4 linked regions of the Homo sapiens genome follow. The protein of the gene in region 3 interacts with the protein of the main gene of each other region in a pairwise test. Each region holds a gene or a part of one and is shown on either strand. Other genes may lie near its edges.

Region 1 (8,182 bases), on a different chromosome or scaffold from region 3:
AAAGTTTTCAAGAGGTAGCTGTTATTACAGACCATGCTCTCCTGTCCAAAAAGTCTTGGGGCCGGGGACATTTTAACATTCAGAATTTCCCCCCATTGTAGAACAGTATTAATAGAGTCCAAGTGCCATGTATTCCAAATCACTAGGGAGGCTGAGGCAGCACTCCGAAATCAAATTACTCTTTCTGCAGTGAGATGCAGGAATACGCACCAGGGTGTCTCTCTGTCTGCACTGTGGCCATTGGGGCCGGATCGTTTTCTGGGGTGGAGCTGTCCTGGGCACTGCAGGGTGCTGAGCAGCGTCCCCGGCCTCCATCCATTCCATACCAGGAGCGCCCCCCAACTGTGACAACCACAAATGTCCCCAGACACCGTCCAGTGTCCCCAGAGGTAGCACAATCACCCCAGCTGAGAATCAATGATATTCGCTAAGTGGGAAAAAGAAAGGCTCTCAGTCGGTCAGTTGAGGTCATTTTCTGGCCAAATGACTTTGCTGTAAACTTAAGGCAAACCTTTCAGTTTACAGAGTATTTAGGATTTTAGAACTGCAAAAAAGGGACTGTGGATCTACATTAAACCGTGGGGTAAAGAAGAGCTTCAGGGGCTCAGAAAGGATGGAGATGGATGGGAACTGGAACTGTCAGAAAATTCTCCTGCAGGAGTTAGGATTTGAAAAACTTGTGGACGTCAGTTCATCCTGTAAATATTTACTGATTGTGCCAAGGATCCAGTAGCAAACAAGGCAGACAACATTCCTTCCTTCCCAAGGCCTGAATATCCCTGACTATCATTATTACAATTATCACCCTCATCGCAATGGGCTGGACAAAGAGCTGGGGGAGTGTGGCTGGGCAAGAGAAAAGCCAAGGATCAGGCAAGGAGTTGCTTCAACAACCTGAGTGACCTTCTAAAACCCAGGCCGGGCACGGTGGCTCATGCCTGTAATCCCAGCACTTTCGGAGGTCGAAGCAGACGGATCACTTGAGGTCAGAAGTTCGAGACCACCCTGGCCAAGATGGTGAAACCCCATCTCTACTAATAATACAAAAATTAGCCAGGTGTGACGGGCGTGGTGACTCACGCCTGTAATCCCAGCACTTTGGGAGGCCGAGGCGGGTGGATCACGAGGTCAGGAGATGGAGATCATCCTGGCTAGCACCGTCTCTACTAAAAATACAAAAAAAATTAGCTGGGCGTGGTGGCAGGCGCCTGTAGTCCCAGCTACTCAGGAGGCTGAGGCAGGAGAATGGCGTGAACCTGGGAGGCGGAGCTTGCAGTGAGCCGAGATCGCGCCACTGCACTCCAGCCTGGGTGACGGACCAAGACTCTATCTCCAAAAAAAAAAAAAAATTAGCCAGGTGTGGTGGTGGGCGCCTGAAATCCCAGCTGCTTGGGAGGCTGAAGCAGCATAGCTTGAACCCGGGAGGCGGAGGTTGCGGTGAGCCTGTGTGAGCAGAGATTGCACCACTACACCCCAGCCTGGGAGACACAGACTGTCTCAAAAAATAAACCAACAAATAAATAAATAAACAGTACACAGGTCACATCGCCCCTTTGCCTCTAAATTAAAAGGGTCTTGGCTGGGTACAGTGGCTCATGTCTGTAATCCCAGCACTTTGGGAGGCCGAGGCAGGTGGATTGCTTGAACCCAGGACTTCAAGACCAGCCTGGGCAACATGGCGAAACCTCGTTTCTACAAAAAATTAGCCAAGTGTGGTGGTGCAGGCCTGTAGTCCCAGTTACTCAGGTGGCTGAGGCGGGAGGATTGACTGAGTCCAAGAGTTCGAGGCTGCAGGGAGTCGTGATCGCACCACTGCACTCCCGCTTGGGAGACAAAGTAAATAAATAACAAAATTAAAAGGTCCCCTCGTTACGTTCCAGCCAAACTGACTTTCTGCTCTCCAAACACGTTCCCTCCTCCCGGGACGCCTCCTTCCCCGGTCTTGGCAGGACACTTGCTTCTCCCAATCAAGCAAGTCGACGCTCACCTCTTCAGAAAAGCCCCCCAGGAACCACCCTCTCTCTAAAAACGTGTCCCTGGGACTGCCCCGTTCGTGTTTATCTGCACCAGAGCACCGATCCCTCCCTATCTTCGATCCTCTCTTATTTAATTTTTGAATGTCTGTCTGTGGCTCTAGAATTCCAGGAAAACGGGACTGGAGTCGTTAAATCACGGCCTCCCCAGGGTCCGCCACGGGGCCCGACCCATCCGGAAGGGAAGCGCCATCAACTTTGCAGAATGAATGAAGCGCTGGAAAAGCTGGTTCATTCATTCGGCAAACGAGAGAGCAGGGTCGTCCACCTCCCCCGCTGCCCCTCCAGCCCGGCCGAGGGTGGCTCGGGGGTCGCTTCGCTCCAGCCTTAGGCCCAAGTCGCGACCCCGGGAGGAGCGAGGGTGCAGGGGACGCCCGGGTCCGGCGAGCGGGGTAGTCGGTACCTGCGGGGGGCTTCATGGCGGGTGGGTCTGCGCCTGCGGCTCCCTCCCTCCTTCCACCTGCTACGCGTCCAGCCACCTCGGCCACTGAGGCCGCCTGCCTCGGCCCAACCGCCGCCACCGCCGCCACGGCCGCCTGAGGACCAAGGGGCCCGCCGCCCGCGCTCCCGGGGCATGCTGGGGCGGCGCGCGCACAGGGAGGGCAGGACGCACGCGCCCCTGAGCCCCGCCCACAGCTAAAGGAGGAGGGCCGGGAGTGCGCTGGAGCCCTCTGCGCACTCGCCGTAACCCTCCCGGTCCGTTATTGGTCTCGGCGGTGCGTGGGCGGAGCCTCTTGCTCTACCATTCCAGAGCCGCTGGGGTGGCTAGGACGGACGGTTTCCTTGGAAACCGCGCACGCCGCTGACGCCTCTGAGCCTCTGCGCGGCTCATTGCGCTGAGACTTCGCTTGGGCTTCAGGCTACCGCGTTAATGTGTACTTGCCTCGCTTCTTATAGCTGTGTGTTGGGCCAGTGTTATTATTGATCGCTTACTGTATATCCCAGGCCCACTTTCCAGCATCTGAATCCGACGAATCAATTAAATTAACCAGAAGTTTTGGTGCTTTGGTTGTTTTTGAGACGGAGTCTCGCTCTGTCGCCCAGGCTGGAGTGCAGTAGCAGCAATCTCGGCTCACTGCAACCTCCGCCTCCCTGGTTCAAGTAATTTTCCTGCCTCAGCCTTTCCAGGAGCTGGGACTACAGGCGCCAGCCCCCACCCCGGCTAATTTTTGTATTTTTAGTAAAGAGGGGGTTTCACCATGTTGGCCAGGATGGTCTTGATCTCTTGACCTCGTGATCCGCCCGCCTCGGCCTCCCAAAGTGCTGGGATTACAGGTGTGAGCCACCGCGCCGGGCCAAGTTTTTTTTTTTTTTTTTTTTTTTGTCAGAAACAAAAGCAAGTAAACGGATTCATGTCAAATAACAGGTGTTGTGGAACAGTGCAGTAGCCTGACCTACATGCAGTGTTGTGGGTTAAAACAAAAAACATCTTGAACCATCTGTCTTGAACTGTTAGGGCACCCAGAAAAAACAATGTACTACAATTAAACTGGCAAAAACCAAAACAACCGACCTCCTTTCTTCCCTTTTTTTGTTTTTGTTTTGTTTTCTTTTGCTTTGGAGGGGCTGGAGGGAGTCTCGCTCAGTCGCCCAGGCTGGAGTGCAATGGCGCGATCTCGGCTCGCTGCAACCTCTGCCTCTCGGGTTCAAGCGATTCTCCTGTCTCAGCGTCCCGAGTAGCTGGGACTACAAATGCCCGCACCACGCCCGGCTAATTTTTGCATTTTTAGTAGATACAGGGTTTCACCGTGTTGGCCAGGCTGGTCTCGAACTCCTGACATCAAGTGATCTGCCCCCTGGCCTCCCAAAGTGCTGGGATTACAGGCGTGAGCCACCACGGCCGGCCTCACCTCCTTTATTTCTGCAAAAGAAATTAAAATAATCCACGCCATTAATCGTGCATGTATTTTGAGTAGGACGAAAATGAATTGGGAGAACATTTCTGGCAACTGTAACTTAGATGGTGATCAGTTTTCTGTCGTCCTTGGAAATGTCTCATCACATGTCTTGAGCAACACCAAGATTAATTTTACATCGGCGTTCATTTTCGCTGTTCCCTGTGCCTGGGGTCCGTTTGGACTTTCCTATCCTTGAAATCCAAATGTAAAGGATGATCTTTCCTACCCATCCCATGCGACTTAGCTCCCAGTGACAATCACACTACCTTCATTTTTTTTTTCTTAGTGTTTGCTGTGAAATTTGTTTCTCTATTTATGTACTAGTTTATTAGTTTATAGTCCGTCTACCCCAATGCAAAATAATGAGAGTAGACACTTTGCTGGTTTTTATGGCTGCTTTGCAATAAATATTGAATGAATATTAGGCACCTGCTGTCTACAAATGGCTCTATACTCACAAACGTCTCACACTGCATGAAAGAATGCATTTGTGGGTGAGTAGATGGGTGGGTGAATAAATGAACAAAGATAGTAAGCGGGTAACACTGACTCCCATTCATTGCGCAGCTGTGACGCTCTGGAGTCCAGGTGTCCAAACGCGGCTGCACCACGTGGCCGGCCCAGCACCACGTGGTCAGCTCGGCGACCGGCTGGAGTCAGCCACTGTTCCACCGTGCACCGCTTCATTCCCGCTCTAGAGGGCAAACCAGACCCGATTTCCGGCCTCCATTAGGTCGCAGAGGTCAGTTGCCCTAACAACCAGCTGGTTCCCGCCTCTACGTTGCGTCACTTCCTTCCACGCCCGCCTCCATCATTAACGCGCCTGTGCAGAAGGGAAGCAACTCCGGGCGCCTTTCTTTTGCGCAGGCGTCGCGCCCTGGGGCCGGGGCCGGGCGGCACCGCGGTGCGCAAGCGCAACCGTCGGTGGGTCGGGGATCGGTCGCCTGAGAGGTGAGTGAGGGGCACTGCGCTGAGCCTGGTGGGTCTGGGGTCTGCGGCTCGGGGCCCACGGGGCCCCAAAGCTCGTAAGAGTTTGGGGATCGTGAGGCCAGGGTCACCGCGACCCGCGGGGTCCTGTGAGTAGGCGGTGCGGAGGGGAAACTGAGGCCGGGCGCCATCGGGCAGGCCCTTCGAGCCCTGATCTCCCTTCCCCAGGCCCCAGGTCCTGGAAATGCTGGTCCGCGGCCTGGTGGCGAGGACGGCGGGAGGGGAAGGCGCCCCGCATGTAGTGAGCGCTCGCTGGGTGTTCGCTGCCGTTCCGCTCTTATTAACCGCCTGGAAACGTCGTCCCTGTGACTCAGGGACCCCCGTTTGTGGGGACTGAAGTCGGAACTCTGGTTCCAGCGCCGCCAGTCCCTACCTGGGTGACCTTGCCCAGCCTCTTGGCTTCTCGGAGCCTCAGTTTTCCCCTCTGTAAAACGGGCGTTGTTCAAAAGTCCCTGCCTAGGAGAAGGAGAGCCGCAGGGTCCAGCGGAATCTGAGAACTCCAAAGAATTAGCAGGCGTTCGTCTTATATCATGTTTAGAGTCTTCTTCTGCATATCGTGCTAGAGGTGGGGGAAATCTGGGATTCAGGACCGTCCACCACCACCTCCCACCCGCTGTGTAAACCTGGGTGAGTCGCCTTCCCTCTCTGAGCAAACTGTTCCTTCTTTCGCAAACGAGTTGTAAAAGCAGATGCCTCGGAGGGTCATTATGAGGATAAACCCACATTCAATTATTTGATCAGGTGCCTGGAACTTGATAAGAGAGAGCTGGCTTGAGAATAGCTGTTTTTGTTATTAGGTGCCAGAAAATTGCAGTGTAGTGTGCCCTTCAGAGGTTGAATGATTGTCCCATTTTCTTTTGTTTCTGTCTCTGATTATTCCTTTTGTCTGCCTTTTCCCTCCCTTGACCAGTGGTTCTCAACCAGGAACAATTCTGTGCCCCAGGGATTCTTGGTGACATTTGTGCTTGTCATGATTTGGGGGACCCCCTGGTTTGGAGTTGGTGGAGGCCAGGGTTGCTGCTCGGCACCCTGCAGTACCCAGGACGGCCTCACCCCAGAAAATGATCCAGCTTTAAATGTCAATAATGCTTTAAAAACCCTACCATACGGGCTGATGACCTGAGGTCAGGAGTTCAAGACCAGCCTAGCCAACGTGGTGAAACCCCGTCTCTACTGAAAATATGAAAATTAGCTGGGCATGGTGGTGTGCACCTGTAATCCCAGCTACTCAGGAGGCTGAGGCAGGAGAATCCCTTGAACCCAGGAGGCAGAGGTTGCAGTGACCCAACATCATGCCACTGCACTCCAGCCTGGGCGACAGAGCGAGACCCTGTCAAAAATAAAAAAAAAAAATCTACCCTAGATCAGTGATTCTTCACCAGCATGGGCAGCTGGGACTGTGTGGGCCCGGGAAATCGTGTACAAAGTTTTGTGTGTGCACCCAATTTCGTGCAGAGAGAAATGGGTACTTTGGAGTTTAGCTTCTCAAGTCAGACTGCCTGGGTTCAGAACTCCTCATTTTCATCCTCGGAGCTGGGTGGTCTCGGGTGGTCCCCATCTTTCCAAGCCTCAGTTTTTCTTCTGTGGAATGGGGATTATAATAGTAACCACCTCAGGTGTGTGAGGATTAAACCAGGCAAGGTATCAGCAAACTGACCAGAAGGCCAAATCCACCTCTGGCCTGTTTTTGTGAATGAAGGTTTGTAGGAACACAGCCACACTCCTTGGTTTATGCGTTACCTGTAGTTGATTTCGAGCTAAGAAGGCACAGTTGAACAGTTGCCATAGGGAACTTAACGCCTGCAGAGCTGAAGACAATCTGGCCCTTTTCAGAAAAACCTTTGCTGACCCCTAAAATAAGCTATCGCATGTACAGCACTTAACTGGGTGCCTGGAAAGCTGTAAGCACGCCAAGGATTTGAGCTGAGGTTTATAATTAAATCTTCCTAGAAGGGTGAATGATTCCAAATGCGGGTGAGCTCTGCCCCAGATTGGAGGATCCTTGAGAGCTGTCGTCTTACTCAATTCTACATTTTTTCTTTTTTATGCCAAGACCCAACAGTGGCTCTGGTAGGAAGTGCTCAGTACAGGCTGAAGGAACAAAGGGGTGGTTTGAGATAGGGTCTTGCTCTGTCGCCCAGGCTGGAGTGCAGTGGCACAATCTCTGCTCACTGCAGCCTCGACCTCCCAGGCTCAGGCCCTCCCACCTCAGCCTCCTGAGTAGCTGGGACTACAGGTATGCACTACTACACCCAGCTAATTTTTGTATTTTGTTTTAGAGATGGGGTTTCACTGTGTTGCCCAGGCTGGTCTCAAACTCCTGGGTTCAAGTGATCCTCCACCTTGGCCTCCAGAGTTCTGTGATTACAGGCGTGCCCCACTGCACCTGGCCCGTTTTCTCTTTTACTGAGGTGGAAACAGAGACCCAGAGAGAAATGGCCTCCCCAAGGAACGTGACCATGTGGCTGTGAATTTTTCAACAATCGCAGGCTTTCCTGAGTCCATAGGGTTTAGACGCTGCCAGATGCTGGCGTTCAAAGGGAAGATGGGTCTGTCAAGAGATAGAAAGCCTTGTAAGAGATGCTGGGCCAGAGATAGGAGTTTGCAGGAATACTAGATTCTCTCCTGGCGGAGTTGGGCAGGGGAGGTGAGCACTTGAGTTTGAGTGGCATGTACAGGGTTTGGTGTAGGCCCCACAGATGACCCCCAGCTGGTGAGAGGCCTCCTATGCACACTCCTGGGGTTGCAAGGAGCAGTTGAGAGCTTTTATGTGTGCAGCGATCTCCTGGTGGCATTTTAGAAGGAAGTAGGCTTCGATGTGGGGAGTGGGCAGGAGACTGAGCTAGAACTCGGGTATCCTAAGAGGGAGTGAGGAGCAGGGCACCCGGCTCTCCTGCCCTGCTGTTGGTGAGAAGCACCGTGGATTTGGGATGGAGTTGGGCAGAGTGTTCACAGAAGGTAGTGGGTAAGAGCGGGCCCTTCCTACTGGGGTGTGAGGAGGTAAGACGACCTCAGTTTACGAGGATGTTCTATTTTTTTCCATTGAATGATCCCTTCTGGGCAGGGAAATAAGGAAGAGAGGTGGTTGTGAGTTTTTTGTTTGTTTTTAGAGACAGGGTCTCACTTTGTCACCCAGGCTGGAGTGCAGGGCCCAATCACAGCTCACTGCAGCCTCCAACTCCTGGGCTTAAACAATCCTCTCGCCTCAGCCTCCCAAGTAGCTGGGACTACTAGTGTGTGCCGCCACATCAGGCTAATTCTATT
Region 2 (7,515 bases), on a different chromosome or scaffold from region 3:
TATCTATTCCAGTATTTTATATAAACGGAATCATACACTATATGACATTTTGTGCCTTGTGTCTTTTGCTTAGCATAGAGTTTTCAAGGTTTATCAACTTTGTAGCACGTATCAGTACTTCATTCCTTTCTATGGTCAGGTAGTATCCATTGTTTGGATATGTCGCACTTTGTTATTCAGTTCATTGCTGATGGCCACTGGGCTGTGTGTTATTGTGAAGACTGCTGCTATGAACATGCATGTGCCAATACTAAAGTCCCTGCTTGGAATCCTTTGGTTATATACCCAGGAGTGGAATTGCTGGGTCAGAGGGTAATTTTTTGAGGGAACACCAAACTGTTTTCCACAGTGGCTGAACCATTTCACATTCCCGCCAGTGGCATACCAAGGGTTCCAATTTCTCCACATCCAATACTTGATGTTTTCCGTTTTTTGGATAGTAGCCATCCTAATGGGTGTGAAGTGGTATCTCATTGTGATTTCTTTCTTTCTATTTATTTAATTTATTTACTTATTAATTTATTTTTTTGAGACCGAGTCTCACTCTGTTGCCCAGGCTGGAGTGCAGCGGCATGATCTCGGCTTACTGCAACCTCTGCCTCCCAGGTTCAAGCGATGCTCATGCCTTAGCCTGCTGAGTAGCTGGGACTACAGGCATGAGCCACCCAAGCCGGGTTTTTTTTTTTTTTTTTTTTTTTTGTATTTTTAGTAGAGATGGGGTTTCACCATGTTGGTCAGTCTGGTCTCGAACTCCTGACCTCAGGTGATCCACCCACCTCAGCCTCCCAAAGTGCTGGGATTACAGGCGTGAGTCACCGCAACTGGCCTCATTGTGGTTTCAATTTAGTTTTCCTAATGCCTGATGATGTTAAGCATCTTTTTATGTGCATATTGGCCATTTGTGTATCTTCTTTGTAGAAACCTCTGTTCAAGTCCATTGTCCATTTTCTAATTGGGTTGTCTTTTTGTTGTCGAGTTGTAATATTCCATAATTAAAAAAACCTCTCGAGTAGCTGGGAGGCTGAGGCAGGAGAATGGCGTGAACCCGGGAGGCGGAGCCTGCAGTGAGCCAAGATCGCGCCACTGCACTCCAGCCTGGGCGACAGAGCGAGACTCCGTCTCAAAAGCAAAAACAAAAACAAAAACAAAAACTCTCCCGGGGTGGCCAGCGCCTTCTCAGGCCCTTTAATTCTCCACTCCTTCCACACATCAAATATATACAGCTTCGTATTTACAGTCCATGCAGAGGAGAACTGAGAGGCTTGGGGTCAGCTTTCTCCTCTTCTCTCCCAGGCACCTGCGAGCCCACCCCTAATCTAGAGCATGTGGAAGATGCCTGGAGATGACTATGCATTGCGGGTCTCCTGGGAAGTGAGGAAGGGAGGTGGGGAACAGGGGTGAGGTGGAGAAGTGACTTTCTAAGTCAGCTGAGAGAAGCGTTCTGGGCGAGGGGGAGTTGTTTCTTCTGGAAGCCCCGCTACCGGCAGGCCACAAAGCCACGCTGGAAGAGCAAGCTGCCAGTAGTAGATGGTTCCAAGGTTTCCCACGCCCCTGTAATTTCTGCAGCATTGGCGGGTTGGGTGGGAGTCTCCGGTCACCTTTCCCGCAGATCAGATCGCCCCGTCTAACTGGACTGTTCCTACTCTCAGGGGCACTCCTTCTTGTATGCTGAACTTCTAAAAGGAGGCCAGCGGGGGGCTGGCTCTCTGTAAACGGTGGGGCTGCGTTCATTGGCGTCCAGGGTTTCTTCTAAATGTAACTGCTTTGATTCCGCCTATCCCTAGGATTTCAAGTCACCGGTTCCACCCAGGTTTGGGTTCGACTGGACTTTCACCCTAAGTTCAATGGTAGCCCTGCTCCCAGGCCGCCGCAGCCCTCTTAGCCTCTGCCCGCAAGCCCTCTTTGGATGAACTGACCTGCTCCCTTTGGTATTCACACCCTCCCCCTCCAATCAGGCAATAACAACCTGGGGTCCAATTTTTAAACAGCCAGGCTCCGACATTTTCTTTCCCGCCCAACTCTCCACGCTGACACTTCTGAGGGTGGGGTGCCGGAAAAGGTGTCCCTCAGGCGGTGACGGACCGCACCCACAGGACATACAGGGCACACCCCTCCCAGGTGAAGGCCAGCGGCCCCCGGGGAGTTGAGGCTGAGGGAGGTCACTTCGGCTTCGCGACACCGTGAGCGCTTATCAGGAGTTCTCAGTAGGAAGCGCTTTCCTGCAGCCTCAGGCAGAGACCGTGCGTGCAAGGCGGGACCGACCGCAGGTGCAGAGGCCCCGGGCCTGCCCAAGGTCAGTCGAGGCGCGCGGATCGCTCTCGCCGCCACCCCCCACCCCCCACCCCCCATCTCCTCCACCCCCACCCCGCACACGGGGCAGAAGGACTGCGGCCAAGCAAACGATGGCCTCATTTCCAGATCGAATTGGTCGCAAATACGTTCCCTCGCCAGAAACTTTAAAAGGCCAGAAGAAAATAAACCGGATTCAGCTCCCTCTCATCTCCAAATCTCGGTTGGTAATACTAATGTTTCTCTTGCTGATTTTTTTTTCTTTTTTAACGAAACCTTCTCCCTTGTAAAAGCTGCGCACTTCTACCCAACCGCGCAAAGCGCGGCGGGAGCTTCGGTGGCGCTGCGCGCGTCAAGTGGGCCCCGCGCGCAGCTTTGGGACCAGCGAACCAAGAGCCGTCCCCCCCTGCCCCGCTGCCTACATCTGACCCCAGTTGGGAACCCAGTTTTTCCTCCATAGTCCTGTAGACTGTTCCCCTCATTCTGTTGGTCTAGAAGGGCACAAAGGACCGGAGGTGGGAGGGGACTTCCCTGGCTTAGTCCCCGCCCTGCGCCTGCTGCCCCGATGCTCCCAGAACCTGCGCAGCTAGCGGATCCCGTCCGACAGCTGTGCTGGGCGCCCGAGAGAGCGCACGGCTCAGCCCACCCCGTCCCTTCCCCGGCCAGGAGCCACTCACAAACTCAAAGATGAAGAGCAAGTCGGGCAAGGTGGTGAAGACCGAGAAGCCACTGGGCAGGGTGCTGCCCCCCGTCGCCGCTGCGGGGGCCATGACGGCGTGCTGGCGTCGGCCTTGGGACGGGACGAGCGCCGCTCAGACTCCGCGCAGACCTCTCGCTGGCTCCGCGGAGCCCAGTGGCCTGGGCGCCCCCGCGCGCGGGTTAAGAGCAGGGGAGCCCGGGGCAGAAGAGGGAGGAGCCCCGGCCGCCGCCCAACCCCGCCCCCCGCCCCACGCCCCGGGAGACCCGGCCCGAGCGCCGCGGGCACCGCCCTGAACCTCTTCGAGGCCCCGCTGCGGGCGTCCAGAGCTGGGGACTGTGGGTCTGACTCCTGCGTTCCAGCCGTGGGTGCCACCTCTTGCGGGAAGCAGGGCAAAACCACTTTGGTCAGGCGCTCCTCGTGCCTTTCTCCCTTCGTAGGTGACCAGCATCTCGTAAGAATGATAACCATCAGTAACCGGGACCCCAAACCTTCTCATCAAGGCACCTCTCGGGTCACCATTACTTTAACTTTGAATTTGGGTCTCCTTCATTTTTCCGCTGGATGCGTTAATGTGCGCGACCCACAGCTCCAGGCGGCGGTTTCCTGGCGGAACTGGACCACCGCCACAGGCTGGGGGTCTGCAGTGGGGGATGGGACCGGCCGCGGCCGCCGGCCCCTTCCGCGTCCACTGAGCCGGCGCTGGTTCGGCGCTGGGATCCTGCACCGGGCCTCTCTGCTTGGTGCTGCGCGTCTGCCTGAGAGTAGGAGGTTGCTCCCAGCTGTGCCGGCCCCAGCAGAAGGCTGCTGGTGGTGGTGCTGGGGCAGGTCGGCCTTGAATCCATGCGACAGGAAGGGACGTTACCAGAAGAGATTCATCGCTTTCTCTTGGTCTGGGCAGCCCGGGCCTTTTGAGGGTGGGACCGCTGCTACCCCCACCCCCAGGTTCTTTGCCTGCCTGTTGACTGCCGGTGTTTCATGTTTTGTTTCTCTGTTTCACTATTTTTTATTTTTTGCCTTAAAAAAAAAAGTATTACCATGCAGCAGTTGCCCATTTATTTTAATTTACTATTAATAGTGTGATTGCTGTGTTTCCTCCTACAAACACTGAAGCCTGAAATCCGCCCGAGTCCGGATTCTCGCCTGCCAAAAGGGAATTGGCCCCGCAACCTCCAGCTTAGACTCCCAACTCTTCTTTCTTTCCATTGGCAGCTGCTGCAGGCAGGACAAGGGGCTCCCCTTCTCTCCAGTGGGGCCTTCACCTCTCCCTGCTGCACAATTCTTCCTCCTTCCCAGTCCCTAGGGAGAGAAGTATATTCGTGGACGCATTTTCCAAAGCAAAAGTAGCACGCCCATCAGCTGGCCATTCTAAGTGCCTCTGGAAAGGGGCCAGGCATTTGAAATGAGAAAACCCCACTGTGCCTCTGTGAGCTGCCAGCCCGGACGGCTGCAACCAAGGTGCCATTGTGTCGGGTCCCCAGGGCAGCATCTCTCTGGACACAATGGGCTGTGGGACTTTAGGAGCCCAGGTCCTCATCCACCTTGGGCATCTCATAGCTCGTTAGTTGGACCTGCTGGCCTCTGAGAGGACATCTTCTTCCTCCCCAGGAGACCGTCCTGGGAACAAGCCTTAAAGCAAGGTGGCCACAGGAAGCCGCAGCCTGAAGAGAGGTGAGATGACCCTCAGGCAGTCCAGCGAAAGCTGCTTGGAGATTTCCTATCAGCACATACTAATTAAGAACAAGAAGATCCTATCAACTCCTAATAATGTCCTTACCTGGCCTGGAGGGCTTTTGTTTGTGGTTTGGTTTGGTGATTTCCTACTTATTTCAAGCCTTTGTTGCTAACTCATTCCTACTTGGGCCTGAGCCTTTGGGGAAAGCTCGCTCCCAGGGGCAACTCAGTGGAGCTCAGCAGTCCCAGCCCTCCTTTGATAAGGCAGAGGGGCAGCAATCTCTGAAAGAGGCTTCAGAGGATGAGGAAGGCAGCCCGGCCAGGGTCAAGGGGGTTTGTCCCTATCTCTGTGACCCCCTCCTCCCACCTGGAGTTCTCCGCTCGACGTTCATCTTCCTGACCAGACTCTACCCTCGGCAGGGCATCCTCCAGCCACCCCCATCTGCCCCTCTCCTTCCCCACCCTAGCATATGCTCAGCACCCAAGCAGAGCCCAGCCTCTGGTGAGTGCTCATTAAACCTTAGCCAATGGTGGATGACTCCAGCTTTGTCTGTGCTTGACCACCAGAGGAGGACATGGAAGTGCCCTGTTTGGATGTAAGAAGCACTGGTGAGGAGTGAGGCACTGGTAATAGAGAGACATTGGTAAATAGAGAGGCATTGGTGAGAGAGAGGCGTTGGTGAGACAGAGAGAGGCACTGGTGAGAGAGAGGCACTGGTGTGTGAGAGAGAGAGAGAGAGGCGTTGGTGAGAGGAGGCATTTGTAAAACAGAGGCATTGGTGAGAGAGAGAGACATTGGTAAGAGAGAGGCATTGGTAAGTAAAGATGGGCCTGTCTTCATTCCCCAGCACAGCTTCTGCAGGTGCTCTGGGCCACCTGCTGGTGAATGAGGTGGTTGATACTTATCAGAAGCCCAGGACCATATTTTGGTTTCCAGCAGGATATGAAAAAATAATTTCAGCCAATAATAACTCAGTGAGTATCCTTGGTCTTCCCAGTGGGTGTGAATAAGAGGGTGGGTCTGGGGCTTCTGTCAAATATTAATAACGTGGCCTTGGGTGGGTTTCCACAAAGTAGGAATTGGAAAGTTGCCATTGCAGAGCCAGCCTGGGGAAGGAAGAGGTTACCACCTCCAGTTTGTGTGTGTTCAGGGGGAGGGAGGAGATTGTGGGGAGAGGGACGTGTTCAGGGAAAGATTAATGGGCAGGAGTTGCCCATCCGTAACAGTAGGTGCATTGGTTTTTGAGGTAGGTAAGATGACTCCCATTTTACTGATGAGCTAACAGAGGCTCAGAAGTGTTAAGTAGCTGCCCAAGGGCACAGAGTTGCTGAGCACCTTGAACCTGAGTGACGCTGCACCTCTAAAGCTCCGAGCCCTCGATGAAAACCCTGCTCAAGATGGGCAATTGCCAGTCAAATGCCAGCTCCATGCAGACATCGGCAGCCTCCCAAATCCAGTCTTCATGGTCATCTCAGGTGTGGCCCCAGGCACCTGCCCTGGTGGACAGGGCTTGGGACCTTCACCTCTGGGAACACAAGGAAGTGGGGGTCATCATCCCCATTTATGGATGGCGAGGCCGGGTGCCGACATGAGTTCAGAGAGCTACCCTGAACGCGCACTTCCCCCTAGGGATTTTATTTTTCTCACAGACACAGTCACCCACAGCCCTGGGTTCCATAGAAGGCATGAAGCAGTGAGGGCACCTGCTGGCGGATGGGGGAATGGCAGCCACAGCTGCCATGGCGTCAGCGCAGGAGGGGAACCTGTTACTGAGGGCTTGCTGAGTCCCAGCACTGCCACAGGCACTTTGCCTGCATGGCTTCATTTAATCCCACAGAGGCTTGCTGGTGGGTGTCACCCAACATACAGGCTAGGAATGGGAGGTAATGTGCGCAGGCCACATGGCTGGTGACTAGGCCTCTTGATTCCAGCAGGCAGGCTCTGTGTCTACTGCACAAAATCCACAAACTGGAAAATCTGAAGTGGTGGCTGCTCACCAGGGCACTGTCCTTTGATGGGCCATGGGCTCCGTGTGCCCACTGCCTCCAGGGACAATGATCCGCATGTGCTCTTTTCCCCACCCTCTTGTAGGATCATGTTTTCTAGAACCAGGGAGATGTGGCACTCTGCCACTGTCCGACAAAGTCCTCATGATATTCTGAGCACAAAACAGGCTGGCATTGTCTGGGTGACTTGTGGATGGGGATGGAGGGTAGAGGGTGTGTGAGTAGGAAAGACAGAGTCCCTGCTCCCTAGGAGAGCTCTTTCCAAGAGGGACAGCACGTGAGGCTGAGAGGCACCTGGTCAGGGCCTGTGCTGGGCATGCTTTGTCCATGACTGCAGGCAAAGTGCTCAGAGACGGTGTCTTAGTCTGTTCGGGCTGCTGTAATAAACTACGGTAGACCAGGAGGCTTGTCAACAGCAGGAGCCTGTTTCTCACTGTTCTGGAGGCTGGAAATCCTAGATCAAGGTGTTGCAGATTCCGTGTCTGTTGAGGGTCCACTTTCTGGTTCACAGACGGCACCTTCTTGCTGTGTCTTCACAGGGTGGAGGAGGTGAAGGGTCTCTCTGGGGCCACTTTTCTAAGGACACTGATACCATTCATGAGGCCTCCATCTTTATGACCTAATCACCTCCCAAAGGCCTCAGCCCTGATACCATCATCTTGGGGGTTAGGATTTCAACATAGGAATTTGGGGAGGGGACACAGACATTCAGATCATAGTAGGTGGCACATGGACCAACTGTTCTAGAACAAAGTTGGGGTGGGGGCAGGCTGCACAGTGGGGCCCTGTTTCTGAGAACCTCTTGGGTGGTACCCCTGTGCCCGCTCTGCAGATGTAACAGTAAACTC
Region 3 (8,263 bases):
CTAGGGGACAGGTATTTCACAAAAACAAATAGAGCAGAGTTCCTGCCCTCAGTGTGCGGGGGGAGAGAGGGAGGGATTCAGCATTTGGTGGAGTATGTTAATTCCCTCAAGTTAATTCCTTCAAGAGAGAGACCTCTTTTGAATAGTAGGTACTTAAGTTATTAATCAAATTGAGAGATGGAAAGGACTCTGGAGGCTACCCTGTTCAAACCTTTCATTTTAAGGTGGGGGATGTCAGCCCAGCGGGGAAAGAGGCCTCCCCCCAACCTCATGGAACCCTCCAAATCATGGCCCAAATATTTTCGTGGGTGTTTGATAACTCCCTGGGCTCAAGAAGTCCCAAGAGCTCTCACTGTTCACTCAAGGGTCCTAGAAGCCCCTAGGCTTCCGCCCCCACCCCTACTCCCATGTAATCAAGAAGAGGACGCTGTAGAAGACCAGAAATGTCCTTAAGCTAAAGTACACTTGATAGGTGATAGGTGGGGGACACTTCCCCACAACCGCCTGGGCCCGGGGCCAAGTCAGTAGGCTGTGCCCCTGGGTAGGAACACCTTTGGGTGGAGGGGACTCCCAAAACAAGGCTGCCTTTAATTGGCCTGAGAGGGAGTGGCAGGAAGGCAGATCAGGGAATGCTCCCAGCTGGACAGGAAGAACTGGTTTAGTATAGCAAGCCCAGCCAAACAGAGGAGAGGACAGCTGGGTACTGAGCCTGGGTTCCCTTCCAAAATATGGGGGTGGTAAGGGGAATGATGGAACAGTCGGGGGAACACCACCCACAATGGGAGGGCTACTAGTCAGAGATCCTGGGGTCCTGGATGCCCTCTACTAACCCAAAGTAGTACCATTTTACCTCTCACATTTGGGAAGTGGGCATAATAGAATCCCCATGTGACAGGTCTTTTTGTGAGGACAAAATGCACCAGATCTGTCATATAAAAAGTACTCTATCACTCCTAACTGCTATTAGCAAAGTCCTTCTCCCTGGGCCTCACTTTTCTCTACCTGCAAAAAGAAAAGGACACGCTGGATCATCTCTTCAGTCCGAGCCAACCGTGACTATGTCTGATTTTTCCAACCACAATCTAGAAAAGAGGGAGGGGACAGGCCAAAGGGGAAGCCCTGTGCCCCAGTTACAGGCAGGAGGTCTGTGACATTAGCCAGGAAGGGGAGAGCTGAGGTCAGGATGAGACTTGACACCTATCTCAGGAAGCAGCTGCCCAGGGCTGATGTCTCCTGCAGCTGATGGGTCACCCAGGCAGGACTGACACAGTCCCCTTCCCCCAAACTACATCCTTCAGAATGCCCCCAGGACACAGCTGACTGCTCAGCACCCTGAAGCACCTGAAGGCTCAGCAGCCCCTGGGAGGAAACTGGCATGTGACTGGGCACACGGTGACCTCAGCAACCTCCTGGGTCCTTTCCTCTTTTTCCCTGTACTGCCTAGGTGGTATCCCTTCGGATGCTTCCCCAGTTGCTTGACCCGACACATCCTTCAGGGCCTAGTTTAGAGCACTGTGCTAGAGGCAGAAGGCTTGGGTCCTCAGCCACTAACATTTTAGGCAAGGTAGCCTTTGGTTTAGGTTAAGTCATCACCTCACTCTGGCCTTGTTTCCTTCCACCTCAGAATTCCTTTGCCTTCCAGCCTAAAATCTCAACCTATTCTAAACCCGTCTTTAGTTACCAACGATGGGACACCTGGAGTAGCACAAAGAGTAGAAGTTAAGCTAAAGCAGAAACTTGAAAGCCTGGCTGCCTAAATTTCAATCTGACTCACCCATTTATTGTGTATTAACTGTGTGACCCTGGGCAAGTTACTTAACCTCTCTAGCCTCAGGACCAGTTTAAGAACAGTACACAGTAAGATTGTTGTTGGAATTAAGCTCCTGGATATACCCATTAGAAAGTTATTAGAGCAATGTCTGGCCCCCCGACAAAGGCGCTCCACGTTTGCAATCATCATGGCATGCCTGGAATTGTGCTGGAAGTATTGCCTAGGGTCTCATTCATTCCTCAAGAAGAGCCTGCAGGCAGAATCAACCTTCCGCTAAGTAAATTCAGAGGAACAGGAGCCCCAAGGCTTTCAAAGAAATTAACATTAATGGTTAAACTGCAAGGACTCACTCGCTCTGAAAACTGGGGCTAAAGGGCACAAAGGGGGCACAAAGCTCAGGCTGTGGGGGACAGATTGCCTTCACCAGTAATTCCCATGCCCCCCAACTTCCCAGATGAGATTGCCCCCCTCCTCCTAAGCCGGCTGCGGGCATGGATAGAGCTTCTGCTGGCCCAGGGACAGCTATGACGGAGGCCAGTGGACAGTGAGAAGGAAAGGTTTCCCTGGGCTGATTGAGGCCTTCTCTCCCCCCTACCCCCTTCACCTCACTCAAGGTGGATGCTTCAATTTTCTTATCTGCAATTGAGAAAAAATGAACACACTTCTTGCAGAAAGCAGAGGCTCAGCTCCTGGCTAAGTGTTGAGTCTAAACCATTCCTCTCCTCTGTCCTCGAAAAGAGCAGAGTCCCCAACTTTCTAGAAACCCTAACGCAGTGTCCCCTCTTGCCCCATTCCCTCAGACCCTTGGTGCAGTATTGGGAAGAGATTCAGAAGGGCAGGACTTTGCCCTAAGTCACAAGTCAATGACAGAGCTGGGGCCAGAACTGAGGTTAGGGCTCAGTTCTCCTTGGTGTGTGAAAGAGGGCCTCGCACAACCCTAAAACCCTCCCCCTTCCGAGTACACGCAGCCCCCCGACCCCCAGGGCCATCTCGGATCCTAAAGCTGTCTGCTCTGGGCGCCCCGAGAGCGAGGAGGGGATTCAGCGCTCCAAGCCTGCCCCAGGGTCACCAGGGAAGGGACGAGGGTGTGGGAGTTGAAGAGTTGACACCGGCTTAGTCACTAACGAGCCCGTAGCCCGCGGCGGGGCTGAGGCCCGGGGAGGCGGGAAGAGCAACAGGCGAGGGGCGCACGGCGCGTGAAGCCATCCCGGAGGCTGGCCCGTGACCCCGGAGCAAAGTTTCCAACAAAGTTTCCCGGGCCTCGGTGTCCGGTTGGGGGTAGCGTACCCCCGATCTGCCCCCCCCCATCCCACGCTCCGACGAACAAAGGAGGCACCGGCCTGCGCCCCCGCTTCGCCCCCAGCCCGGGAACCTCCAAGCACCCACCGACTCGGCGACTCCGCCTACGAAGAACAGCAGCAGCGCGAACAGACGGGCGGGGGCCATGGCACCGCGGACTGGAGAAGGCGCGCAGGCTGCGGCGAGTGGCCCCGGGCGGGCGCGCCACCCATCTTATAGGCGGCCTACCGGCCCCGCCCCGGCCCGCCCCCGCCCCGCCGCCCGCACCCCGCCCGGAATTCCCCAGTGGAAGCGAGGCCTGCGGGGCACTGCGCCCGCCCGCGGAGTTGGAAACCCCAAGGGACCCGCCCTGCCCGAGCCCGCCGGCTCCTACTCAACCCCTAGTCCTACCCTCCGGGAGCTCCAACTCCCTTTATTTATTTGACCCACTGCCAGGCAGGTCCCCAGAGATCACTGCGGCTAACCCCATTTTATAGTTGGGGAAACTAAGGCCCAGGGACGGGAAGGACTTCCCTAGGGTGTTGAGTTTAGACCAGCCTTCATACCGGGTGTGCTCCCCTCTGAAGACACAGAACTTCCCAAATGGGATGTGAACCGTGTTAAGACAGGGGACAGCAAACTATTCTGTAAAGGGCTAAATATTTTAGGTTTTGCGGGCCATACGATCCCTGTGGCAACTATTCAAACTCGAGCGTCGTAGCTCAAAAGCAGCCATAAATACTAAAGGAATGAGGGCAGCTAGGTCCTAATAAAACATTATTTATAGACACCGACATTTGAATTTAATATAATTTTCATGTGTCACGAAATATTATTATTCTTTTGACTTTATTCCCAACCATTTAAACATGCAAAAATCGGCTGGGCTCTATGGCTCACGCCTGTAATCCCAGCACTTTGGGAGGCCGAGGAATAGGAGGATCCCTTGAGCCCAGGAATTGGAGACCAGCCTGGGCAACCATAATGAGACCCCCATCTCTACAAAAAGTTTTTAAAGAAATTAACCAGGCATTGTGGTGCACCCCTGTGGCCCAGCTACTCTGGAGGCTGAGGTGGGAGGACTGCTTGAGCCAGAGAGGTGAAAGTTGCAGTGAGCCATGATCGCTCACTGCACTCCAGCCTGGGTGACCGAGTGAGACCCTGTCTCAAAAATAAATAAATAAATAAATAAATAAATAAATAAATAAATAAATGACATTTTATAATAAAAATGCAGGCCGGATGCAGTGAGTCATGCCTGTAATCCCAGCACTTTGGGAGGCTGAGGCGGCGGATCACTTGAGCTCAGGAGTTTGAGACCAGCCTGGCCAACATGCTGAAACCCCGTCTCTACAAAATACAAAAATTATCCAGGCATGGTTGCCTGCGCCTGTAATCCCAACTGCTCTGGAGGCTGAGGCAGGAGAATCGTTTGAACCCGAGGGGCGGAGGTTGCAGTGAACTGAGATCTCCCCACTGCACTCCAGCCTGGGCAACAGAGCAAAACTCCGTCTCAAAAAAATAAAAAATAAAAATGCAAAAACCATTCTTAGCAGTGGGCTGAACAAAAATAGGCGGTGGGCCTCAGCCACTCTGAGACCACTCTGACGCTGGTCTCAGAGTGGCTGACGTCTGTTCTAAGGGCTTCATCTACCAGATTTTGAACTTTTTCAAAAGTTTGATCTCTCTGAGAACTGGTCTGCAAGTTTATTTCCATTCTTAGGGTAAGCTTCCACCCTTTATAAGAGAAAGTTGTGTGTCCTCCTTACCCTTCATCCTCCTAACAGTGCATTGGTGGGAGCAGGTTGAGGGAAGAAGTGGAGGGGGGTGCTATATGGAGACTGTAAAATTCTCTGGGTCCCCAAGCACACGTACTGTTGGAATTATTGCAGGGTGTGAAGGTGGGCATTCTACGATGATCGAAGTACAAAAGAAGCCTAACCCTGTCTCTCCCTGACTTATGTATAAATCTTTCTAAGGGTGTAACATAGCCTTAGAAGTAGGACATTTTGGCCACTGTTGGCATATTATGAATTCATATACTTTGTGGAGTGGAGAATTGGTAGTGACTTCCCTTTTTCCACCTCTTAATTATTATCAAAGAATAAAAGTCTCTTGTGGCAGAGAACCTTGGCAGTAAAGCAAACTTCAAATGCTGACCACGGGGTTTCCACAGATTTAAAGGTAAGCAATGACTTTCAGTGGTTTTTAACATGCTTCCCTAGGATTTGGAACAAAACTGAGAAAATGAAGAAATCTCATGCCAGAATAAGAAATCCTTTTGCAAGTTAAATGGTTTGCAATCTTTGCTTTCCACAAAATTGCAGGGGGGCCTAATCTAGTTGTCAGTAGATAGATCATTAAATATAGAATAGGTAACTGTGATTTTAGTTATCTATTGTCACACTGTTGTAACAAGAGTTCTTCTGTTCCTACCAACTTTTATAAGTTTCTCAGCACTTACAGCCAGTGGTGTGCCAGTAAATGTTTGACAATTGGCTAGGGGAAGTGGCGAGTGCTAATTTGCCAATTTCTGTAGTGTAAATACTACCAGCATGGCTGATTTCAAGCTACCAATGAGATGTCACTGAACATGGAGCTGGGAAGATATATTTCTACCACACAGATACAATAGGTGCAAATAATCTCAAAAGCATGGATAACAGTAAAGTGTAGTGAGATAATTAGTAAGTGATGAGTTTTGAGTATTTATTTCCTTTATGGTTTTGTTTTTGTTTTTGTTTTTTTGAGACGGAGTCTCAATTTGTCACCCAGGCTGGAGTGCGGTGACGCAATCTCGGCTCACTGCAACCTCCGCCTCCCAAGTTCAAGCGATTCTCCTCAGCCTCCAGAGTAGCTGGGACTACAGGCACACACCACCATGCCCGGCTAATTTTTGTATTTTCAGTAGAGACAGGGTTTCACCATGTTGGCCAGGATGGTCTCGATATCCTGACCTCGTGATCTACCCGCCTCAGCCTCTCAAAGTGCTGGGATTACAGGTGTGAGCAACTGTACCCGGCCTCCTTTTTTTTTAATATAATTGTATGTTCATATAAATTAATTTTTAGTAATAGTTATGTTTAACAACTGGCTAATGACATAAAAAAAAAAGCAACAAAAAAAAAACAGGATCTCTCTCTGTAGCCCAGGCTGGAGTGCAGTGGCAAAATTATGGCTGATTGCAGCCTCAACCTCCCAGGCTCACGAGATCCTCCCACCTCAGCCTCCTGAGTAGTTGGGACTAGACATACGCCACCACGCACAGCTAATTATTATTATTATTGTTATTGTTATTATTATTATTATTATTATTATTTTGGTAGAGACACAGTCTTACTATGTTGCCCAGGCTGGGTTTGAAGGCCTGGGCTCAAGCAGTCCTCTCAACTTAGCTTCCCAAAGTGCTGGGATTACATGGCACCCAGCCACAAAATTTCTAAAAATTGACTTTCATGAACCACTACAAGATGGCTTTACCACACCATGGTTTGACAGCTATAAAAAATGAAAAATAGGAATAAAATTATTGCTAAAACCTGTTTCATTCTAGCAATATTCGTTGAGGTGTTTGTTTGTTTGTTTGTTTTTGACAAAGTCTCACTCCATCACCCAGGCTGGAGTGCAGTGGCACAACCTCTGCTCACTGCAACCTTAGCCTCCTGAGTTCAAGTGATTCTTGTGCCTCAGCCTCCCAAGTAGCTGGAATTACAGGTGCACATCACCATGCCTAGCTAATTTTAGTATTTTTAGTAGAGATGGGGTTTCGCCACATTGGCCAGGCTTGTCTCAAACTCCTGACTTCAAGTGACCCGCGTGCCTCGGCCTTCCAAAGTGCTGGTATTACAGGCATGAGCGACTATACCCAATCTCATGGAGGTTTTAGTGAGCTAATTGGAGAGAAAAATTGCCACAGCCACCTAATTAAGACAGGTATTTCTAAAACAACTTTACTTTTTCTACTTAATAATTATTTATCAAAGTTTGTAGGACTGGTTTAGAGAGTGATGTGATTTGGATGTTTGTCCCCTCCAAATCTCATGTTGAAATGTGATTCCTAATGTTGGAGGTGGGGCCTGGAGGTGACTGGATCCTGGGGCAGATCCCTCATGAATAGTTTAGCATTATCCACTTGGTGATAAATGAATTCTCACTCTCAGTTCACGCTGGATCTGGTTGTTTAAGAGTCTGGGAACTCCACCTTCCCTGTCTCTTGGTCCTGATGATGCCATGTGAGATGTCTGCTACCCCATTACCTTCCGCCATGATTGGAAGTTTCCTGAGCCCCTCGCCAGAAGCAAATGCTGGAGCCATGCTTGTATAGCCTGCAGAACTGTAAGCCAATTAAACCTCTTTTCTTTATAAATTACCCAATCTCATATATTTATAGTAACGCAAACAGCCTAACACAGCAAGCATATATTTATGTCAATTGTATACTTTAAATATGTATAGCTTATTTTATGCCAGTTGTACCTTAATGAAGCTGTTTAAATTATTGCAGGACTTTTTAAAAGAGTCATCAGTAAGCCTCTGACGCATTAAAAAAAAACACATTATGATAAAATTTTGTGGTGGAACATGGAGTAGAAATTTGACTTCAAATAGAAAAAGAAATGATGCAAAATGTCTGACTCTTAGAAAAGAGCTTGTTCATGTATTTTTTAAATGGATGATTGTAGGTATCGAATTGCTAGGGCATTTAATTTAACTGGATACATTTAAAAGAGTGATGTAATTGTTTTACTTTTACGTGTATAAATTTACAATATGCCAGAAATTACAACCTTTGCAACTATTTAAACTTTTGATGAAAAATGTTAAGCTATCAACTAAAAATTATGTCAAGGAGTACCTAGTCTTAAAATAATCATTTACAGAGTACACTAGCAAAAAAACAAAAACAAAAACTGAAAACAGCTCGTTTAGAGAGTTAATGGAAGTTCTTCTATAAAACTATCTTAACCTCCTGGAATTAAGGAAATAATTTCCCCTTCCCCAAGTTCTGAGAATCTCTAAAGGGATGCAACATGTTTGAATATAATTATTTGTGGATGTATGGGTCTTTAACCTGGGCTCCATGACTGGGGGCAGAGGACACATGCATGGTCAGTACTCCTCTAGGTTATGTGTCTCTGCATACATTATTTTGGGGCAAGAAACTTCAGATTCTTTCTTTATATCCACAAAAAGAGGATGTTTGGGGGATCCTCC
Region 4 (7,713 bases), on a different chromosome or scaffold from region 3:
CTGGCCAAAGCCCCGCGCCTGCGCTGCGCTTTCTGGCACCCTCACTGGAAGATGCCCACATTTCTCCTCCATCTCCTTCACTCTCCCCACCAAATCACTTACAGCCCAAAGGAACAGCTGTCCCGATCCTCAGGGTGGCCTCAAACACAAACTCGGGTGCGTTGGCTCCGCTGCTGGCGCCGCCAAAGCTGCGCTGCGGGGCTGCGCGCGCGCGAAGCAAGGGGGCAGTGGGAGGCTCCTGGCGTTCCCCTTTAACGGGAACAACGCCCTGTTTGCGTCGCTGCAGTAGGGTGTGTCCCTGGGTCAGCGTGTGCGGGAGGGCGGGACTCAGGGAGGAGAGGGGGCAGGAGAGAGGGAGGGCAGGAGACAGTCACTTGGCCTTAAATGCGCCTCAAGAAAAAGTCGGTCCCTGCAAAACCGCGGCGACTTTTACTCGAAACCAGAGGCGGCTGAGCTTTCTCACCTCCCACCTCCCTTCTCCCCTGGCCCCGTGGAGACCTAGTGTTGACCGAGAAACTGGCTCCTCAGCCCACTCTGGGAAGACCCAGCCAAATGTAGCTCAGCGGATGCCCAGGGCTGGGCTTCTGGGCCCGCCGACGCCGACCGCGCCCGCGCGGGGCTGAGGCTGGATTCCTTTCCCACTAATAGAGGGCAGCGGGCGCTTGAGCGCTGGAAGAAGTCCCTCTCCTCTCGGGTCCTGGAGCCCCTGCCCTGTCCTGGCGTCTTAGCCGGACACACCTGCCCCGCGCCGGTCCCCGCTATTACTGTCTGCACCTACGAAGCATGCCAGCTTCCTAGGATTGGCGGGGATTGATCTAGCGGGCTCCTCTTGGGTGCGAATTAGGGGAAGAAAAGTCCGGCCGACTACTGGATAGCATGGTCTGGGATTGGGCTCCTCCTAGCCTAGGCAAAACCAGACTACCACCGAATAAGCTCTAGGCAAAGTGTTCCTGCAGCAGTCGGGCTTGGCTGTCAGCCTTGGCTGGAGTCCTGGCCATGGGGTTTGGCGGGCGGGTGCGAGGTGGCCATTTGAGGTGGGGTTGGAGCAGCCAAGGAAATCAGCTGATTCATAGCCTCCTAACGTGGCCCGCCCAGCGTTACAGGGAGAGAGGCTAGCCCCCTTCAGTCTCGGCTTGGCAGAGGCGCGCCCAACTGAGACTCCCGTGCGCAGGCCAGCCTTGAGGCACGGGACAGGGAGCAGGAATGTGGATGTTAAAGGTTTCTGCCTGAAAATGCAGCAGTTCACGCACGCGCGCGCACACACACACACACACACACTTCCCTACCTCTAGTGTACTGTGTCATAGAAGCTCATCACTCTCAATGATTCAAATAATTCTATATTATTTTACGATTTGAAAGGAGCTGCTATTTTAGCTAATTGTATATTCTTACGGTAAGTAAAAATAAATTTGAAAAAGATCTTCAAACAATGATCTTTTTAAAACTATCGTGTTATCAGATTAAAATGAAGTGTACTTGTAAACACTGCATTTACAGTGCCCGTTATATGCCAAGCACTTTGCCTGGACTTTATATGCATGGTCTGTGAGAGGCAGTATGGTGCAGTGGTTAGGCACTCTGGCTCTGGGCTCCAACAAACCTAATCACCCTGCTTACTTTTGTTGTGAATTTGGGCAATTTCTCAAGTTCACTGAGCTTCAGTTTTCTCAGGTGCAAAAGGAAATAGTAATGCCTGCTTTAAAGGTTTATGGTGGTGATTGAAGGAGACAATATGTACAAAGCAGTTAACATCGTGTCTGCAACATAATAAGGGCCCAGTGCCCAAATTGCCACCACTATTATTATATCACATTTAACTCTCACATCAACCTTTCAGGGAAGACCTGACCACCTCTGCACTAAAGTAGCTTGTAACTCTGATAGGTAGGTAGGTAGGTAGGTAGATAGATAGATAGATAGATAGATATAGATAGATAGATAAAGATTTATAAATGAAAGTGCATATGCAAGTAGAAAAAAAAGTCTAAAGACATGGCAGTGTTTTCTTTCCTCCACAGGTCATTTTATAAGTTAGATTTGCTCTAGAAATTATTACTTTGTTTTATGCCATTTGGACATTTATTTATTTAACCAACACTTATGTGATCACAACATACTCAGGACTGTTCTAAGTAAGCACTTTAGAAATATGAGCATATCTAACTCAGGGTTTTCTTTCCCTTCCTTTGTGATTTTCAAATAAACTTTTTAATAAAGTCTAATACACATACAGAAAAGTGCATATATTGGGTGCTACAGCTCGCTTCTTCCTTTCTTTTGAACCCAATAGTTTAATCAATAACCACCCAGGTCACAGCCACACCATATACTGCCAGACAGGTAAACCCAACCCATCTGTCCCTCACTGCCTCTGGCCTCCTGCCTGGTTCTCAATGGTGGCAGAGGAAGTGCTACTCAGTGCCTGCTGACCAGGCTTGCCACACCCAGAGCCCGGCTGGCCAAGGCTCTGCCACAGGTGGCAGCTTCTCCCTAACCTGCTTACCAAGGCCACCTGCCAGCTGTGTGTGCACAGCTATTTTCCATGGGGGAAAAAGCATCTAGATTCCTTTCTTCCTTTCAATCTGGATGCATTAGGGTTTCTAGATGCTCTCAGATGGCCCCCCACCTCCCCAGCCAGAGTATATATCCACCTTTTAACCAAGGATATAAAAAGCCCTCTGAATCTCCAGTCAATTCCAACACAAATGCACCATCTCTCCTGCAATCCTTTTCATTTGCGGCTTGCAGGGGGTGGGAAATTAGGCAATTCTTGTAAAGCATAGGCACACATCACCCAGAGGCACAGTTTGCCAATAAAACTCACCCGGCCAAACAGCGTAACCCCTTCTTCCAAGCAGATTTCTTTGCAGCCAAATGCAAGGGATGTTAAGGCAAGACCCTCCCCACAGGGCAGTCAGAGACCCGCAGCCGACAGACTAAGCCTGCAGCTTCCAACCAGGCTCCCCGAGATGTTCCCTGGTGGTGCTCCCTGTAACTGAAGCCAGACCAGGCGTCTTTCCAGTTTATTCAGGGGCTGGTCCAATGCTGGGATATGTCATGGTGGCCTGAGAGGTTCTCAGCCTCTATTATTTAAAGAGACAGTGTCCAACTTTGTTTGCTTTCCAGAATACAATAATCCCAAGAGGCCCTGCAGGGCATGGAGAAACTGGAATCAGAAGGGAGAAGAGCTTTGAGTATGCCTGAAGCCTGTGATGCCAAGACTGTTCTCTCTGGAAGTGCCAACCTGTGTAATAGCCAAGAGGTCCCACTGGCTCCCCTCCCCTCCCAGTGAATTCTGCAGAGATTAAATATACTGTGGGAAGGATCTGTGTCTACAGTGTTACATACGTGCAGGTAAGTTTTATTTTAAATAAACTTCCTTTTAAGGAGCCCAAACATTGCACAGCTAATCTCTCACAGCATCACAGCAGTGAGCCAAATGTCTCAAGAGTCACCAAATCAAGCCTCCTTTGTTCCAACCCCTGGTTGGAAGGACTCCCTGTTACCTGCCTTGTCTGCCTAGACCCCATCGCAAATGATCACATGTGTTGTACATTAGAATAAAACTTAGGGAAATGTGTTCTTCCGACTCTGTCTTTAATGTGCCCGAATCAAGCTGACCTTCATGAGATAATTCAATGCAAGTAAACGAACCTCTATTGAAAACTATTGAAAACTTTCTAACCTGTCAGGCAGAATAGGCTGGAAGAGCAATTGGAAATTCTTGGAGAGGGAAGTAAAGGAAGTTATGGCATATTTAGGTTCTTTGCAGCGTACCACTCCAGCTCCCAGAGAGTCCTCCATCCCTTGAACCGCTTCTAGCTGCAAACTCTGACACAAGAGGACTGGTTTCATTGCATGAGTTTCCTGGAATTCTGGCACTTGGGGCATAAGACTTCCTCTTGTGTTAGGGATCCCCAGTCTGGAGAGACCTGCAGAATTTGGAGGAGTCCCTCCCTGTCACACACTTTACGTTTGATTGGACTCTCCAGTCACAAGGGCCTCTCAATGGCCCTCTCCCCTGTTCTGCCCACAGCCAGCATCTGCTCACAGCCAGCATCACAGCCAGTGCCAATAAAATAGTTTCACCTTTCTCTCTTTGCTGAAATCATTTTTATTTTTCACAGCAGTGGTTCTTTAGAATCACTCAAGAGCTTTGCAAATGACCTAGCCTGGGCCATGGTCAGAGAAGCTGACTCAGGTGTTTTGGGATGGGGCTCAGGTATGGGTAATTTCCAGTGTCTTTCTCCCCGCTGGATGTTTCGTTGTCCAGCCAGGTTGTCATGTGGAGTTAGATTGTCGCTGATTTCCTTCCAGCTCCCTTCTGTTGTGGAACCCAAATGGAGATGAGGTACAGTGTGGGCTGCTGCAGTATTATGCAAGTTATAAGTCTGTTCTGCCAGGCAAAACGGTGTGTGTGTGTGCGCGTGTATCTGTGTGTGTGTGTGTGCGCGTGTGCGTGTGTGTGACAGAGAGAGAGAGAGAGGAGCCTCCCTCAGTCCTCCTCTGACATGGTCTGTACGGGGACTGGGAACAGTGAGCATGGTTTTTGCAGCCTCTCCAGACAGTCTTTTCCTGGGTACTGCCATGATCAGCTCCAAAGGCTACACGACAGAGGCTGCTGTCCGTCAGGCCAGGATCAAGCCTGAAGACACGTAAGATTATTTCTGATCTAAGAGCTAAAGATTCAGAGGAAAAGGGGTAGGGCCTGGTGAGTGTGGGGCATGGCTTCTGGCCAGATAGGAGCAGTCTGATTAGCCCTCCCTCTCTCCTTCCATGAGCTCCACATTCTGAGACCTGCTCTCTTGGCCTCACGTCTCTTTTGCCCAGGTCCTCCATCTCCAGCAGCCAAACCCCGAAGTCCCTGTTGGCTGTCAGCAGTAGAGCTGTTCACTGTTGTGTGCCACTGGCCCTGTCTACCAGATGCCAACACACTTGTCTTTACCCATCTGGGCCAGACTCTCTTCCCTTCCCAGAGTCAGGTGAGGAAAACTCCTTCCTCGTCTCCCATTTCCAATAACCTTTTCTCAGCCAAATGGGACCCCTATCCCATGCATCTGTGTTGAGCAATGTCTCTGCAAAGCTGTAGGCTATATCCCACTGAGCCTCTTGCAAAATAAACACATAGAATAGTCACCAAATAACATTTATTATTATTTGCTATCCTCCCTTCCATTTACAGATAGGAAAAATGAGAATCGGGATTCTCTGAGGAAACACAGTTGAGTCAATGAGACTGGCTATTTCTAGCACCTGAGCTGTTCTGCTACACCACGCTCCATCGGCTCAGTAGCATCAGTTATCCGCAAGTCCTTGATAATGATGATAATAGGTTATATTTACTTCGTGTTTAGCATATGCCAGGCACCATCTTGAATATTTTATATGCATCAAATCACTTAATCCTCACAACCGTATGAAATAGGCACCCCATCATCCTCTTTTAGAAGAGGGAGAAACTGAGGCACAGCGAGATGTTCAGTCACTTTCTCAAGACACACTGCAAAGAAATGACAGAGGCTGGATTCCAACCAGGCATTCTGGCTACAGATCCCGTACTCACAGCCTGGACTATCTCACATTCTACCGTGCCCCTAATTGTGCCCAGCACGTTCCTAGCATATCTTCTCATCATGCTTCCATAGACACTATCATTTAATGTCCTATTTGTATGAAAGATATTCTCACATTATACATATTTATGCATTCACGTTTCTTTTTCCATTAAAAAGCAAGAACATATCCTAAGACATCCATTTTTTTTTCAGCACCAGTCACATTTAGTACAGCTTTCAAGAATCCTGTCTCATCCTGCCAACAAGGCTGTGTGCTCCTCCGAGGACATTTGCATTCCATATGTCTGTATAGCATAAGCACTGGCAGAATCCTGCCTGTAGGTGAGATTTTAATTTCATAAGAATGAAATGTTGTCCATGACAGTGGAATCCCAGCAGACTCTTGAAGAGGGAGGAAACCCTTCCGCACTTTATAGCTAATAAAATGCTGTTAACATATGGCAGTATCTTATTTAAGAGGAATCATTATAATCATTTTCTATGTGAAGAAACTGAGGCTTGGAAAATTTACAGTGTTTCCTCCAGGGACTAGCTAGTGAATGCCAGGGCTGGGGCTTAAAAAAGTCCATTCCTCTGACTCCCAAACCTGTAATTTTTTCACTGTGCAGGCTCCCCAGAGAGAAAACCAGAGGCAAGTCTGAATTTGGTGTTTGTCCAGGTGATGAAGTTGTTGTTGCAGCATCTATCCCACCAGGTGCTCAGTCAATATCTGAAAAGTGTTTACACTAAGAATGAAGTCTTTCCTGTGTCCTCATAGCCAGCAGCCTGTGTGGGAGTTCTTGGCCAGCCCTGGACACAGCTGGCCTGGAAGGGTCCTCAAAAGTCAGTCCTGCCTCATCTAGACTCAGCTAGACTGTTTTGATGTCGAGTGAGAGCAGCTTGTTGAAAGAACAAGCAAGGCAGGGAAAGAAGGCAGAGGGGAAGGAAGGAAGGAAGGAAGGAAAGAGGGAGGGAGGGAGGAAGGAAGGAAGGAAGGAAAGATGGAAGGAGAGAGGGAGGGAGGGAGATATAGATAGGAAGAGGGGAGGGAAGAGAAGGAGAAGGGAGAAGAAAAGGAACAGAAGGAGCCAGTTTGACTTCTGTGACAGAATCTTCTACAAATAAGCAAGTTTGAAATTATGACAGGTCCCAATCCCTAGAAGATATTCTTTATGAACAACACAGACGCAGTCAGAAAGCAACATAAAGACACACACAAAAAAAAACTCACATTGGCACAGGACTGTTCCCTAAATGACATCTTTAAAATATAGAAAGGTATCTTGGAGTAAATTGTATATTAACTCCTTCACCTGTGGGAGAGAGAAGTCACAGAATTATTATGTTGTGGCAGTGGGACCAGACCAAGTACAAAGGATTCTCTGTTCACAAATGCATTGTTGCTTAGGAAAGCCAGATTCCACAGATGCAAGTGGAGGGGGGAAAGCAGTCTTTTCTCTGACATCTCATGAGTTAGCAGCTAGAGGATTGGGGAGCAATTTAAGCAAGAGTCAGAAATGGATGTGTACTTGGGATTGCAAACTCTAAAACTTTTCTAAGACTGTTTACTCCTAAGTGAAAATGCTTCTGCTCCAGTAGGGCATAGGTTCAAATAAAATGGGGAAGCAGAGCAATCTTGCCACACGGGAATGGACGGAATGGGGAGGAATGCAGGGATTTTCTAGGCCACTGCAGACCAGGCATAGAAATGTCGAGAAAAGCAGCCTTGGCTTGATGTGAGAGATTGTCCTTATTGAGAGAGGTGCACAGGAAGGCCCATGTAACCCAAGGAAATGCCTGCTTCAGGCAGTCGAAGCCACACCAAGAAATGGAGCATTAATCTCCAGCAAGGACGAGGTGAACGCAAACGGTCCTGGATGGGACCCTGGGAGGACAAGCCCCACGACGCATCATAGTCCCCACAATGCATCATTCTGTGTGCACTTCTGAGCCTAGGGAGCACCAGTTGTACTTAAAATGAACTGGAGACCAGATGTTTTCTTCATCTCTGAGTTCCTGCACCACTTATCAAGTGTGAAACCTCAGCTAATCCAGGGAAGTTCACAGACAAAGGTCAAATCCTTTCGAGACGTTCAAGGGAAAGCCGGGCAAAACTTCAAGAATGTTTACTCTTCATTGTTAGACTAGGAAATAT

The links.
Region 1: the proteins of SDC4 (region 3) and SGTA interact in binary tests that used the Homo sapiens proteins (3 or more experiments, as listed by UniProt).
Region 2: the proteins of SDC4 (region 3) and MAL interact in binary tests that used the Homo sapiens proteins (3 or more experiments, as listed by UniProt).
Region 4: the proteins of SDC4 (region 3) and PMP22 interact in binary tests that used the Homo sapiens proteins (3 or more experiments, as listed by UniProt).

What each region holds. Positions count from the first base shown.
Region 1 is NC_000019.10:2,779,933-2,788,114, reverse strand, and holds the start of SGTA (small glutamine-rich tetratricopeptide repeat-containing protein alpha), read left to right. Parts: upstream 1-4,841; 5' UTR 4,842-4,882; intron 4,883-5,367; exon of another isoform or gene 5,368-5,545; intron 5,546-8,182. Other genes in the region: THOP1 (thimet oligopeptidase), read right to left, coding at 2,437-2,452. UniProt on the Homo sapiens protein: Co-chaperone that binds misfolded and hydrophobic patches-containing client proteins in the cytosol. Mediates their targeting to the endoplasmic reticulum but also regulates their sorting to the proteasome when targeting fails.
Region 2 is NC_000002.12:95,021,337-95,028,851, reverse strand, and holds the start of MAL (myelin and lymphocyte protein), read right to left. Parts: upstream 3,145-7,515; 5' UTR 3,060-3,144; coding exon 2,967-3,059; intron 2,513-2,966; exon of another isoform or gene 2,419-2,512; intron 2,294-2,418; exon of another isoform or gene 1,823-2,293; intron 1-1,822. UniProt on the Homo sapiens protein: May be involved in vesicular trafficking from the Golgi apparatus to the cell membrane. Plays a role in the maintenance of the myelin sheath, and in axon-glia and glia-glia interactions.
Region 3 is NC_000020.11:45,345,168-45,353,430, forward strand, and holds the start of SDC4 (syndecan-4 precursor), read right to left. Parts: upstream 3,258-8,263; 5' UTR 3,218-3,257; coding exon 3,158-3,217; intron 1-3,157. UniProt on the Homo sapiens protein: Cell surface proteoglycan which regulates exosome biogenesis in concert with SDCBP and PDCD6IP.
Region 4 is NC_000017.11:15,262,327-15,270,039, forward strand, and holds the start of PMP22 (peripheral myelin protein 22), read right to left. Parts: upstream 3,001-7,713; 5' UTR 2,828-3,000; intron 227-2,827; exon of another isoform or gene 99-226; intron 1-98. UniProt on the Homo sapiens protein: Might be involved in growth regulation, and in myelinization in the peripheral nervous system.